4 linked regions of the Homo sapiens genome follow. The main gene of each other region encodes a partner of the protein of the gene in region 3 in a complex. Each region holds a gene or a part of one and is shown on either strand. Other genes may lie near its edges.

Region 1 (3,500 bases), on a different chromosome or scaffold from region 3:
AATCCCCTGTGCCCCCTCACTCAGTTCTCCCTCCAGATATGGTCCAGCACACAAGGTGGCACTGTGTGACCTATCAGAGCCCCTTGAATTGTTTGCAGAGGAACTCGGCTGGGTTGGGGAGAGCTTCTGGGGTCTGGAGGTGACTAGGTGAGGGAAACGGATCAGTGGTTTCTGGGAGAAGGGGCAGCACCTGGGGGCAAGAATCAACCCCAAAGCAAGAAAAAGTATCTAAAACTCTGCCTTCCCACCATTCTATTCACTTTTAATGGTGAGGTCAAGGCTCTTTCCATACAAAGGTGGCCAAGGGATCTGCTCTCATTGGACTTTCTCCCAGGAGCGGCCTGCTCCCTTCCTCCTCCTGCCTTGGGCCTCATCAGCAACAGCCTGCCCTTCAGGGTCGGAGACAGGCTCATGGCCAGGGACCTGGAAGAAGGTAATGGGCTCTTATGGAGATTTAATAACTGACCTGGCATTAACCTTTTTTAGGACTGACTAACCAGCCAATCGGGATTTGTGTGAGAGCCGCCCCAAGGCAGAATATACTTTTCTACTAGTAAAGAAAACAGCTGGTTTCAAATAAATAAATCAATTCACAAGATACCCAGCCAACCCAAACCTTCTACCAACTCTGTGGTACTGTGTGCTGGTTCATCACTGCAGAGAACAGCATCCATTAAGACCTCTGAGAATACCAGCCTAAGTGGGTCTCTAACTGTCCTTTCAAAGCTTTCCTTAACTTTAATTCTTGGGGTTTCCTGAGGGCAAACCTAAGGCATCAGTCTCCCGTGAAACAGGAGAAGCAGCACGCCAACCCTCTCACTCCTGCTGCTGCGCTCCAGCATCTTGCACGGAGGGGAAGGGTGTGAGTAAGAACATACTATAGTTTATTTTCAAGATAAAGATGCTGTCATCTTGCCAAGACTCAGATCCAAGTATCTCAACAATTCCCCTAGACAAAATCATCTCCCCTCCCCCAAACCTTCAGCTCATGCTGAGCCCAGTACTGCGGCAAGAGGCGTTTTAGAACTCCTTTCAGGCATCGACACCTCCTTTGAACAAGAGACTTGGTAGTCATCCCGTGTACATTTTTTAAATTGGGATGTTGTGGTGTGGTGAAGGTTTTTTTCCCTTGGGGTTTTGGCAACCACACTGAAATTCTGCCCTTAAAAGCGACTCCCTAAAAATGGCCTTTTCCAGTGCAGACGCACACGAGGCAATGAGAGCAGCTTCGAAATCCCTGATCATCCAGGATCTTCCCACGGGAGGACCTGTGCAACTGAATACTCACTCTGGGGGGCTGCAGGGGAGCAGGGGACACAGGGAGTTGTTTGTTCAAGGACAACGGGTCTAACACAGAATAATCCCAAGAGGAAAGAATCTGGTGAAAACCATTCATTGAGGACTTCCTAACAGAAGCTCCACACCGGGGCACCTCTTGGCTACAAAGCAGTAGTTAAGGCAGGGCTGGTGCCTTCCTTTAGCCCCAGCAGGAGAACAGGGGCTCTGATGACCAGCATTTCTCATACCAGGGAACAGCAACACAGCTGAGGTCCACCATGAATTCAACAAAGCCTGGCTTGAACGAAATGAGTCTTACCCTGGAGAGGTACAGGAATCCTTGAGGGAGTTGTTCACAAATTTCAAGGGAGGGGCCTTCACCTCATGGTCAAATTTCTTTTCAGAGCAAGAGTACAGGCCCCTAGTGCTTTTTGGCTGGCGTGTGGGTTCCCAAGGGCCCTCCCCAGGGGGCTTACCCGAATCCTCCTGCGCTGGCAGCTGCAGTGCCCTCTCCGAACACTTTGCCTCCCGTCGAGCCCAGAGGGCTTGTAAAGGCTGGGGCTGAACCGAATGCTGGCACCCCTCCAAACCCAGGGGATCCCCCAAAAGTAGGAGGGCTGCCAAACACTGGAGCAGCACCGAAGCCACCTGAGCAAAACAGAGGCAAACAAACAGAAATAGGGAGAAAGAAAGGAGGAGACAGGAAGAGAAGACATTGAGCAATGAGAAACCAAATCAAAATAGGAAGAAAAAAGGGAAAAGAGGATGTTAGCAATTCAAATGCAAGAACTAGAGTAAAGGGCAACACCCCCCCTCCCCCCCGCCCTTCTATCAAGAAAATAGTAATGAAAACAACAAAACAAAAGCCCTCAAACCAAACCACTCCCCTCCATTCCTAGCAGAGGGCTCTGGGGTCCACTCAGGAGAGCTCCTGCAGACCCTGTGAAGTCACTGTGAAGCCGTGTGAGCAGACCTCCAAGAGCCCACTCGGTGCACCTTCCACCCCTCCCAGGTCCTCTGAGCTGTTTGGAGTGAAAAACCATTCTCAAAAACTCCAATCCCTACCTAGCTGACAAAAGATGACAGACTATATTACTTATCAGTACACAGGCAAGACATCCAGCTTCATAGAAACCCAAATTATAAAATCAGAGGCTCAAAACCTCCTCTCAGGGAGAATCCCTGAATTGGGTCATAGCAGAGACAGAGACGTGTATGCTGGCGCCCAGCCAGGTGCTTTTTATTTATTTACAGCCTGATGGCTCCTACGTCTCTCATCAGAGTCTCCCTTTCTCTCGCTCAGTGGAGGTTTGTTTTTTTTTTTTTAAATGCTTTTTTCCTGCAGTCTGGAATTACTTCCCAATGAAAAAACACACCAAATTTCTTCTTTGGAGGCAGGCTGCTGCATAAATCTAATAAAATAATAAGTCAACAGTGAGGACAGCCCTAGAGTTCAGATGCCTTCTGCAACGTTGCCAACACTGCTGCCCAGTGGGCTCAGGCTGCCAGAGGGCAGCACCACACAGGTGGCCACACAGACAAGGGTCAGGTCACGCACAGGGCACCCTACTCTGATTGCTGGTGATGCCTGTCAGGCAGGAAGACAAAACATCCTCTCCTGAGCTATTCCTGATGCGGGTTCCCAAACTTCCAAGATACTGCTGAAATCATTCTAAAGTATTAGAATAGACACTCAGTGAGTGTCTTCTTGAATGAATGGAATAGAATGGCATAAGAAATGTGCTCTAACTGGGAGCACCCTCTAAAGGGAGTACTTCTTAAGGTGAGTGTTGGCCTATGAACTGCGTGCTAGCGGGAGTAATGGTGGCCTAGCGACAAGCCTTTTCTCCCCTTTCAGAAAGTCAATCTGTTGTTAGAGGGATGAAATCCAGACTTCTTATTGTTTATGTAATCACAACACAAGCTTCTGCCATCTGAATCAGGAAAGATCAAATCCTGGGTATGAAAAGTTGTCAGCTGAATCCCTCAGTTAACTGTTATTTTGTGATTCACTCATGTGCCTATTTGCCATTAACAGTGGTAGGCTGCACAACTGAGAAGATACTTTTTTGCTAAGGCTCGTGTTTGGGTTAACATTCCGCATGTTAAAACACTGAGTGAAATTCCAAGCCATGATAATGGAGACTGTTGGGTTATAAATATAACAGACTGGAAAAAAAAAAGTGCTAAAAAACCCTTACAGTTGAATTATTTAAGACTGA
Region 2 (3,500 bases), on a different chromosome or scaffold from region 3:
TCAAAGAGTCTAAAACTTACAGTAAATAGCCTATTAAACTCTGCTTAACCTCGTGTTTTTCCAGATTTAACCACAGAACATTATTTTCAAAGGACACCCATTAACATCCCGGACTATAAAAGGTATCTCATAAAATACTCTGAGAAAAGCTTAATCAGCTTTTTATTTTATTTTACACACAAGGATACCAAAACCTACAGTGGAAATAACTTGTGTTGGCTTATACTGTAATTTAACAATAGAAGTAGATATAAAACTCCAAACCCAATTCTTCTTGTTTCATTGCCTGTTTTGCATAAACCTCTTTTATTTTTCAAATTTACACTCCCAAATAAAGAGCTAAAAGAAAGATGAAAAATCCAGCCAGGCAAGGTGGCTCATGCCTGTAATCCAAGGACTTTGGGAGGCCGGGGTGAGTAAATCACTTGAGGCCAGGAGTCCAAGACAAGCCTGGCTAACATGGCAAAAATCCATTATCTACCAAAAATACAAAAATTAGCTGGGCATGGTGGCGGGTGCTTGTAATCCCAGCTACTCGGGAGGTTGAGGAAGGAGAATCGCTTGAACCTGGGAGGCAGAGGATGCAGTGAGCTGAGATCACACCACTGCACTCCAGCCTGGGCAACCAAGAGTGAAACTCGGAAGGAAGGGAGGGAGGGAGGAAGGAAGAAAAGAAGAAAGAAAGAATAAATTAAAATAGAAAAAAAAATACCAAAATAAAAAAAGCAGAGCGCTGAAAAACTCAAGGAAAGTAGTGGAACGCTGGTGTGCTTGCTTGCTCTATTCACTCCTTGTCCTACTTGTAGTCAGATATAAGGCTAACTTGCTCTCTGAGAGAAAAGTATTTCAGGCCAACATCAGACCAAACTCCAGCCTCCAGCAACACCCACTTGTATACTTGCTTCTTGGGAAGGGAACTCTAAATTGGGTGGCAGCAAACAAGGTAAATGAAAAAACTAGAATATAAAACTTCCTATTAAAAAGATATATAGTAGCATAATAAATTCATGTAGAGATACATACACAAATACAGATTAAGCACCTGGAATTCTTTTTTTTTTTTTTTTTTTTTTTAGGAGACAGGATCTTGGTCTGTCAACCCAGGCTGGAGTTCAGTGGCATAATCATAGCTCACTGCAACCTTGAATCCTGGGTTCAAGTGATCCTCCCACCTCAGCTTCCGTAGTAGCTGCAACTACAGGTACATGCCACCACACCTGGCTAATTACTTTTAAGTTTATTGTAGATATCAGGTCTTGCTATGTTGCCCAGACTGATTTCAAACTTCTGGGTTCAAACGATCCTCCCACCTAAGCCTGCCAAAGTGCTGAGCCACCACACCCAGGCTACCTGGGATTCTTACTGTCAAAGTATAAACTTCTTTCCTTATGATACTAAGTAACCAAATATATATATATATATAATGGCAATAAGAAAACTAAATATAAATTTTGGAGACACTTCAAGAATACCACAAAACACCCAAAATGGGCTGGGCATGGTGGCTCATGCCTGTAATCCTAGCACTTTGGGAGGCCAAGATAGGAGGATCACTTGAGCCCAGGATTTTGAGACCAGCCCAGGAAACATGGCAAAACAAAAGATGCAAAACTTAACGGGGTGTGGTATCATGTGCCTGTAGTGCCAGCTACTCGGGTGGCTGAGATGAGAGGTCCTGATCCCTGGAGGTTGAGGTTGCAGTGAGCCAAGACTGCGACACTGCACTCCAGCCTGGGCGACAGAGCGACACTGTCTCAAGAAAAAACAAACAAACAAACAAAAAACAATAAGCAATCTATCCGAGTTTACAAAGCCAGGGAAAATATCAGGATAGTCTCTTTGGCTATAAAATTTGGGTTCTTTAGACTACACCAGGATAATTAAAGATGTATCAATTTTCATACTCTAAGGTCCAAAGAGTATGTGAACTCTGAATCAACTAAAGCATAAAACTGTTTAAATATTAAGCTCTCCTATGTGGGATCACATAAAATAATACTTAAAATGCCAAACAGCTGACTTCCATATGTTGAATATCTGCAACAAGCAAGTCATCTCGAATGACTGGTAAGAGATTAAACATGCACCAATCTGAACCTGACCTGCTGGGTGCATATGGTAAGAATTATTTTCTATTTCTTCTCGGTCATCCTGAAGTGACTCATCATGAAAAGACGTTTCTTCACTGCTTCCTTCCAGCCCATTTCGCAAAGCAGCACGCATGTTTAATGCAACAATGGTATCATCCACACTGTTGCTGTTGCTGTGTTTATTTCCAGCACTTTCTGGGGTTTGAGGAATAGGTTTGGCAATAGGGTTAGTATAAAAATGTGAAACAAGGGAATCTTCATCTCCATCCTGCTGGTGATTCTCATCAACAGGTTTGCTTAGGAAACTAAATCTGCAAAGGAAAAGAAATAATACCTTAGCCTCTTGTAGTAGTAATAACAATGATAATAGCTAACTAATACCGAGCCTTTACTAAGTGCCTGGCACTGTTCTGGATAGTTCCATGTATTAAAAATTCACTTAATACTTACTACAGCAGTACTGTGAAACAGATAATTACTATCTCTATTGTATACTCTCCTATATGGAATCAAATAATTGGTTAATTTTAAGATTAAAAACTGAAAAAAATGTTAGATTTTTAAGATTACAATCAACAAAATGTTAAAAAATGCTTTATAAATAATAATAATAATAAAAAACACTAGAATTTTATCCAAAAGAAAAAAAAAACAGGAGTACAAAGGTGTCTATACAAAGGGTTTCTTTTTTTTTTTTTCTTTTTCGTGATACAGCCCTCAGGAGGCCCTGAGAACTTGTGCCAGTATATAAGGATTTTTACTGAAGCACTGTTTTGAGTACAGGAATACCGGATAATCTAAATGTCCACTAACAAGGAACTGGTCAAGTTATCTTACATTCACAATAATGACTTATGCAATCATTAAAAAAGAAAAGACAAATATATTCATACAGATAATGGAAAGGCATTTCTAATAAAATAAATGGAAATAAGCAGGTTACAGAATATATCATTCGTGCATAATCTTTATATAATAAAATATATTTATAAAGAAAGAAATTTCGGCTGGGTGTGGTGGATAACGCTTGTAATCCCAGCACTTTGTGAGGCCGAGGCGGGTGGATCGCTTGAGGTCAGGAGTTCAAGACCAGCTTGACCAACATGGCGAAACCCTGTTTCTACTAAAAATACAAAAAAAATTAGCTGGGCGTGGAGGTGCATGCCTGTAATCCCAGCTACTCAGGAGGCTGAGGCAGGAGAATTGCTTGAACAATTCACATCAGAGGATACAGTGGGCCGAGATCGTGCCACTGCACTCCAGCCTGGGTAATAAGAGCAAAACTCCATCTCAAAAAAAAAAAATAAATAAATAAATTTCTGATATGAAAGAATATATACCTAACTATTAAGAATCACTGTACAAGGCTGGGCACGGTGGCTCACGCATGTAATACCAACGTTTTAGGAG
Region 3 (3,500 bases):
TAAAAAAGGTTAACATTTAAAATATGGATTTGATTTTTCTAATTTCAGGTTTATCTCGGGGTTTGGGGATCTCATTTGACATTTTATTGTCAGACTAAAAGTTGACAGTCACAGCTTTAATTCTCATCTAATATTTAGTTGATTTCACAAATGAATGCCTTTGTGATTATGCAGGTTTATTAAAATATATATGTTTTTAAACTGTAGTGACAGACTGGATATTGGAAAGAGATCCCCATGAAGAAATACTCAAGGCATTTAAACTATTTGATGATGATGATTCAGGTAAAATAAGCTTGAGGAATTTGCGACGTGTTGCTAGAGAATTGGGTGAAAACATGAGTGATGAAGAACTTCGAGCTATGATAGAAGAATTTGACAAAGATGGTGATGGAGAAAGTAAGTTTTAAGTGAAACGTATTTTCCAGGTTTTCCTGATGCTACACATGTAATACATTTTTCTAAAACCAAATGACTTGCAAGACTTTTTTGTAAACTTAACTGCTTCTTGTAATGGACCTTCTGTCTAAATAATTCACATATTCAATTTAGAATGAAGCAGATCTCTAAAACCAATTATACTTCAAGAAGGTCCTTCACTTTTCTCTGAAGGTGAAACCACCAAAATTTCAGCCTTTCAATATAATTTCAGTCTTTAATGGCTTCTCCCTCAACCTACATGCTAAGTTCTAAGTTCTATTGATTTTCCCCTTCAAATGTTTTGAATCTGTTTTTATCTTTGTCCATTGTGGCTGTCCTAGTTCAGGCCCTAATTTCTAGTTAGGAATGTTATAATGGCCTCATTTATTCTTGCCTTGGCTGCCTACTGGGTGCAGTGTCCTGCGTGTTGACTGGTGCTACACAATGAAAAAGGCAGATGTGGTTCTTGCTTTCACTTTGCAGTCTCTTGTAGTGTCCTAATTGCCCTTTCGGCATATAAAAGTCTCTAATCTCTTCTTCAGTCTCTTGGTATCATTCTTTTCCTAAAATATACATTTGATAATGCCATTTCTGTGTTTAGACACTTGAAACGATTCTTCAGTGCCTACAGAGTAAAGTTCAAAGCCTTCTATGATCTATCCCACCTTGAGTAACTGATTTTACTTTCCAGTGTATTCTTTCACTTTTCTTCTTTAACCCTCACCTCCTGTATGTACACATTTTGTCAACATATGCTATCCTGAAAACACATTTTTATGCTATTCGTTTCATCCTGCTGTTTCTTAATCTTAGAATGCTCTAATTGTTAATTTCTGCCTGCTAAAATGTGATTCATTCTCTCAGGTAAATATTAAACACCATCTTTTTCCCAAAAGCTTCCCATAACGCTCTATGAATCATGAGACTTCCATTGAAGGCCTATAGCATTTAGAGAAACAAATTGTTTTGATACTTTCATACACTTAATATGGAATCTTTTGGCTGGAAACTAAGTTTTGTTGAGATAAAAACCACTTTATTTGTATGTTAAACTGCTAAAGATTAGACCTTGCTGTCTTTTTTGTGGACTTTAGTGTTCTTCTCTCTTTGTGACTTTTTCATGCTTTTCAGTATCTAAGAGCAATGAAATTTTAAAAATATTGGGTATATAGAATAATAAACATGGTGAATGTGAAGTTAAAGGTAAATAAGATGTACTACAAGATAGACATAAAGCTGTGGTAATGATACAGAAAGAGTCACTTCCCCCTGCCCCCTCAACAGCATATATAAAATAAAACACAGCACATCTTTTGGAAAAAATGAAAGGAACGTTTTGAAAAGCCAGAATGGATAATCTTTTAAATAATGATGATGTTTTTTAACATTTATTTAGCAGCTACTATATTGGATATTAGCATTAATTATGTCACTTAATTTCCATAATAACTTGTAAAGTAGATATAGTATTATACCTATACATGTGTATAATAGATGCATATATAGAGATGAGGAAGCTAAAGCTTTGAGAGATTATTAATCTGCCCAGGTTATCACAAAGCTAATACTGTACATGGTAGAGCCAGAACTCAAAATCAAATCTCCAAAATGGCAAAGAATGTGCTTTTAAACGTAATATTGTATTGCCTTTCGGGCTATGAAGTAAAATATTAACTAGACTTCTATGTTTATGGAGTTTTAAAAATTACATGCTATTATAGGAAGCAGTGTATTAGCAACATACTCAGTTGGAACTTCCAATTCTAAGATTTGCTTTTCCCCTTCAAAGCCAGATGGTCTCTAAGGTACTTAATCTACTTAGTTCTGTAAAATTCTTATTGTTAGCAACTTGTAATAAGATTTGCTCTATGAAATGGTTGATGTATGAAAAATTTTGTTAAAGAAGGCAGTATAAAAGGAAACAAAGTGTCATATTTTCTTGATTCAATAAATGTTTTACCAAAGCTTATTTTAAGCTAGGCATTGTGGTAGATTTATTAGATATAGGAACTTGATATAAGATATTGTTAATAGAGAAGGTTATAAAATCAAATGCACAGAGATATAGAAGATTGTCTTTTAATTGTCTACAAGACAATTAAAGTAAAGTAGCTAGTTTAATTTCCTGAGCCACTTTCTAATTTTTACTTTCTTGGGTTTAAGTAGTGTGTTTTTAGGTATGAATCATGGAATTCAGTTGTCCCTTGATAAGCACAGGGGATTGGTTCCAAGTCGCTTAAGGATGCCAGAATCTATGGTGCTCAAGTCCCTTGTATAAAATGGCATAGTATTTTCATATAACTTTCACATATCCTCTTGTATACGTTAAATCATCTCTAGATTACTTATAATACCTAATACAATGTAAATGCTATGTAAATTGTTATACTTTATTTTATTTGTATTATTTTTTATTGTGTTATTTTCCCAAATATTTTTCATCTGCAGTTGGTTGAATCTGCAGATGTGAGGAACCTGTGGTTACAGAAGGCTGACCGTATTTTAAATACTTTTGAAATGCTATTATAGTTTAAAGTTTTTGTATATAAACAATATAAAAATTAAGTGTTTTGTGGTTTTCAAACTTATATATGAAACTTAAAATTTGCAGTTTGAGTATTGAAATTTTACAGATCAAGAAAAAGTTCTAGATCTTTAAGTAACAAGTACTTTTTGGATTTTGAATATTTTAATCATGGATGTATTACACTGTTAAAATGATTTGTAATCAAATCATTCTAAGGCTGTTTTATGTTTTTTCTCTTAATACAGTTCTTAAGAACATACTCTTGCTTCCTATTTGGTCTAGATGCCTCAGTCTAAATCGGGAGTTCTTCAGTGAAGGTGCACACTGGCTAAACTGATTAATAATTTTATATATTTGAACTGTATTTATTGGAAAGAGAGAGGGATCATAGCTTTCCTAAGATATTCAGACATGGCTATTTAACTGCAAAGGTTAAAGATCACTACATCAATTTGTAAGATTCTTGAAAGTAGTTTGGAGTATTACAGATTTTGTATTACGTTCTTACCATGTTTGTCATAGTGTTTTGTAGATGTTAAATACTGATTGCATG
Region 4 (3,500 bases), on a different chromosome or scaffold from region 3:
TCTGGACTTAAGTCACACTCTCTAGAGGAGGACATGGAGTGCTTGATATTTCACACACAAATCTTACATCTTCTAAGGCTGAGGTTGACTTTCACATTCAAATAAAAATGTGAAAATGAATCGTGACTCTGCTATATGGAATATTATATCTAAATAAAAGTAACTCCCAAAGGCTTTGTTTCCTGGCTCATTTTGGGTAGATTTTTAATTAATTAAGGTCAATTTAACCAAATAATGAATATCTACATAGCCTCTCATTCCCTGGCCCAAGAGCTAGTGACGGTATTTCCCATTACACAAATAAAAATGTAAACAAAATTTCAAAGAAAAAAAAAAAGAAAATAAAAGAATGTTGAAAAGAAATACAAATCAAAGAAATTTATTGGCGTTGACAAAAATACATAATACAGAAACCAAAACAAAACACAACAGAAACAAAACCAGAAACCCCAGCCTAGTGGGCCCATGTGCCTGATGTACTGACAGTGTGCCGACCCAGACTCCCACAAAGCATGGCACTTAATTCATGAGGACCTCCATCTGCACCAGCCTCGCATTGGTGTCCCCAGACGTTCGGTATGGTATCATTCCAGCAAAGGTAATCAGAGTGCGGGCTTGACTTCGGAGTTGCTGAGAGAGAAGGGAAGGAAGGGAAGGAAATCGGTTAACTTTCGAGTCAGGGCACTATTCCATATTCTTCCATCCTCTATTCCATGTTCTTCCATCCTCTACCCCAGCGTGTCAGGGACAGATCCCTGATGGGTGGATGACAGTCATACCCTCCTCTGTCACATTCCTTCAACATAACACAAAGTTAACAAAGCTCGTCCCCCGAGGCCTCTGTTCCACAGGCATCCAAACCCATCTATTAAGCAAAAAGCAGATGGGTTTGCCAGGCAAGCCGCCTCGCCCCAACACATTTGGCTAGCTTTTGACACAGCCCTGAGCTTCAGAACTGCCTGCTCCAATCTTCTGAGCCTCTCTCTCTGGCTGGTTTCTGTCCATCTGCTTTCACAGGGATCTGACTCTCCAGAGCCCCATGAAGCCCTTGTGACACCGGAGGCAAGGGCTGTGACTGTGCAGTCCCAATCCAGCTCTCTTCCTCCCATGCATCTTTCCTCTTCCTTCCTTTCATTCCTCCTGTTTCTCCCTTCCCGACATACATGCTTAGCCCTTCTTTCCCCAGGCAACAGTATTTATGGAATTCCTGGATTGTTCAGGATGGAAAAAGGTGGCCCTACAAATTTAAACCAAATCTGGACTAGAAAGGGAGAAATCTACCACCAACACCTTTCTGGACTAGTAACAAGAATTTAAAGAAACACTGAGGAGTCATCTACTAGGCTTACTTAAGGACCATTCCAGAAGAAAACGGAAAAGCAAATGCTTTTTACCTGATGTGTAAAACAAACTAGCGAGTGTATGTCCTTATTGATGTCCAAACAAAAAGAAATCTGACTTTGTGATGTGAATATCCACTGTATTTTCTTTAGAAGTGAATAAAAGGGCTCTCGTTAAATGAGCTCTAGGGATGTTCAAGTAAAAGGATTCACCCCTTTACTAGGCAGCATCTCACTTTAAACCATGAAACCAAGGACGTCAGTGGGCTTGCAGACTTCTTGGGCACGCAGCTTTTATAGATAACCTTTTACTTAATCCTATCCCTCCCTACCTTTCAGAAAAAGAAAGAAAAAGGAGAGTGGTGGGCAAAAGGAAGGCAGGAGAATGATCTTCAGACATGAGACATGGCCTGCCAGGGGACCAGCTCTTCTCAGTGGGCAAGCCCCACTGAACTGTAAGCAGCACACAGAGCACCAAGAAGTATCCACCATCTCAATACTCACATTCACAAACATCACTGCCCTGGGTTTCTATCATCAAAAAAGATTCCTGCCAAATGGTGGGCACCATGAACCCACCGCTGGCACATCTGACATTTAGACTCCTATCTGTCCGGGGTAGGCAGAAGACCAGCAAATGCTCTGGTGCACACCTGGATGGGCTGACCGCTTCAGTGGACCACTCTTGAGCACTGTTACCCACATTCCTAAAGGTGGAAATTTCCGCCATCTTTCACTAAGCACAAGTTTTGTCAACAACCATGCCTGTGGGGTCACAGTGGAAAGAGCTCACAGACATCTTGGAGGCAGAAGACAGATCAAGGCTTCTTGGCTGCCAAAACCAGGTCTGATGTTAGACACTGAGATGCTGAGAGTCTCATCAAAAATTAAGTGGAAAGGTTAAAGGAAAGGTAATTTTAAAAAACACTATTGTGGGGCCGGGAACGGTGGCTCACATCTGTAATCCTAGCACTTTGGGAGGCCGAGGTTGGGGGATCTCTTGAGCTCAGGAGTTCGAGACCAGTCTGGGCAACATGGTAAAATTCCATCTCTATATAAAGTACAAAACTCCGCTGGGTGTGGTGGTGCGTACCTGTAGTCCCAGCTACTTGGGAGGGTGAGGTGGGAGGGTGGCTTGAGCCCAAGAGGTAGAGGTTGCAGTGAGCTGAGATCGTGTCATTGCATTCCAGCCTGGGCAACAGAGCCAGGCCCTGCCTCAAAAAAAAAAAAAAAGCAAACACCATTGGACTGTCCCCTTATGGTTTAACTGGGTCAAAAAATACCTTTGCTCTTTTTTTTTGTAATCAGACAACATATGCTGTGAGCCCCAGGGTTCTAGCTACCTGGACTCCACTTGACCCATGCACTGCTGGAGGTCCCACAGGCAGCAGAAAGGGCACAGGTGTCAGAGAGACCCAGCCTCCAGACATGGCCCCTTCACCTACCTGCCACCTGAGGGCAGTTGCTTCCCAACTCCACAGCTCAGTTTCCTCAGCTGTGAGAGGGGATAAGATGCTGTCCTAGTTACCTCTCTAGGGTCACTGTGAACACAGGTGACAGGAGAAACAAGGGTTCACATTAATGTGTTGATCAAAAATAAAGTATGGTTTTAATAAAAGTGTTCACTAATGAGCTAGGACTAACAAAATAAACTTATCTTTTAAAATGTGCAGGAAGTTCTTATGGAGTCAACTAGAAATTAGCATTCTGTTTGATTTGTTAAAAGGTAAGATTTGCAGACCTAGTACATCTTTTTATTTTTTTAAGCTTGAGAAGAGCAGCAATCCCTTTAATATTTGATTTCCTCTGGGAGCCTCCTAACACGAGATTTATCCAGCTGCCAGGTACTGAGGAGAAAGAGCAGTTTTGGGTCATGTGGTCTCATAAGAGCGCAACGGATTCCAAACCAGAAAGGTGGTGCTTAGCAATGTTTCTCGCGAATGCTGGGATCTTACAGAGTCGCGGTCCTCGATGACTCGCTGGGGCCTGGATGACGAGGATGGACTTGTCCCCTTGAGCCTCTTAAACTGTGTGAACAAGATGTTCATGGTGGCAAGAAGCACTTCTGAGAGGTTGTGCCTGATCTACATAGAGAGAAAAACAGAGTAAAGAAAAAGAACCAAGCCTTTGGGGCCAACCACAGATGGAGGGAGGGTGGGC

Evidence for each region.
Region 1: CETN3 (region 3) and NUP214 share a complex: the UniProt entries of both Homo sapiens proteins name them as parts of the nuclear pore complex.
Region 2: CETN3 (region 3) and NUP98 share a complex: the UniProt entries of both Homo sapiens proteins name them as parts of the nuclear pore complex.
Region 4: CETN3 (region 3) and NUP93 share a complex: the UniProt entries of both Homo sapiens proteins name them as parts of the nuclear pore complex.

What each region holds. Positions count from the first base shown.
Region 1 is NC_000009.12:131,226,586-131,230,085, reverse strand, and holds part of NUP214 (nuclear pore complex protein Nup214), read right to left. Parts: intron 1,927-3,500; coding exon 1,755-1,926; intron 1-1,754. UniProt on the Homo sapiens protein: Part of the nuclear pore complex. Has a critical role in nucleocytoplasmic transport.
Region 2 is NC_000011.10:3,721,055-3,724,554, forward strand, and holds part of NUP98 (nuclear pore complex protein Nup98-Nup96 isoform 1 precursor), read right to left. Parts: intron 2,402-3,500; coding exon 2,103-2,401; intron 1-2,102. UniProt on the Homo sapiens protein: Plays a role in the nuclear pore complex (NPC) assembly and/or maintenance. NUP98 and NUP96 are involved in the bidirectional transport across the NPC. May anchor NUP153 and TPR to the NPC.
Region 3 is NC_000005.10:90,396,257-90,399,756, reverse strand, and holds part of CETN3 (centrin-3), read left to right. Parts: intron 1-207; coding exon 208-399; intron 400-3,192; coding exon of another isoform or gene 3,193-3,264; intron 3,265-3,500. UniProt on the Homo sapiens protein: Plays a fundamental role in microtubule-organizing center structure and function. As a component of the TREX-2 complex, involved in the export of mRNAs to the cytoplasm through the nuclear pores.
Region 4 is NC_000016.10:56,841,629-56,845,128, reverse strand, and holds part of NUP93 (nuclear pore complex protein Nup93), read right to left. Parts: intron 3,425-3,500; coding exon 3,296-3,424; intron 631-3,295; coding exon 520-630; 3' UTR 1-519. UniProt on the Homo sapiens protein: Plays a role in the nuclear pore complex (NPC) assembly and/or maintenance. May anchor nucleoporins, but not NUP153 and TPR, to the NPC. During renal development, regulates podocyte migration and proliferation through SMAD4 signaling.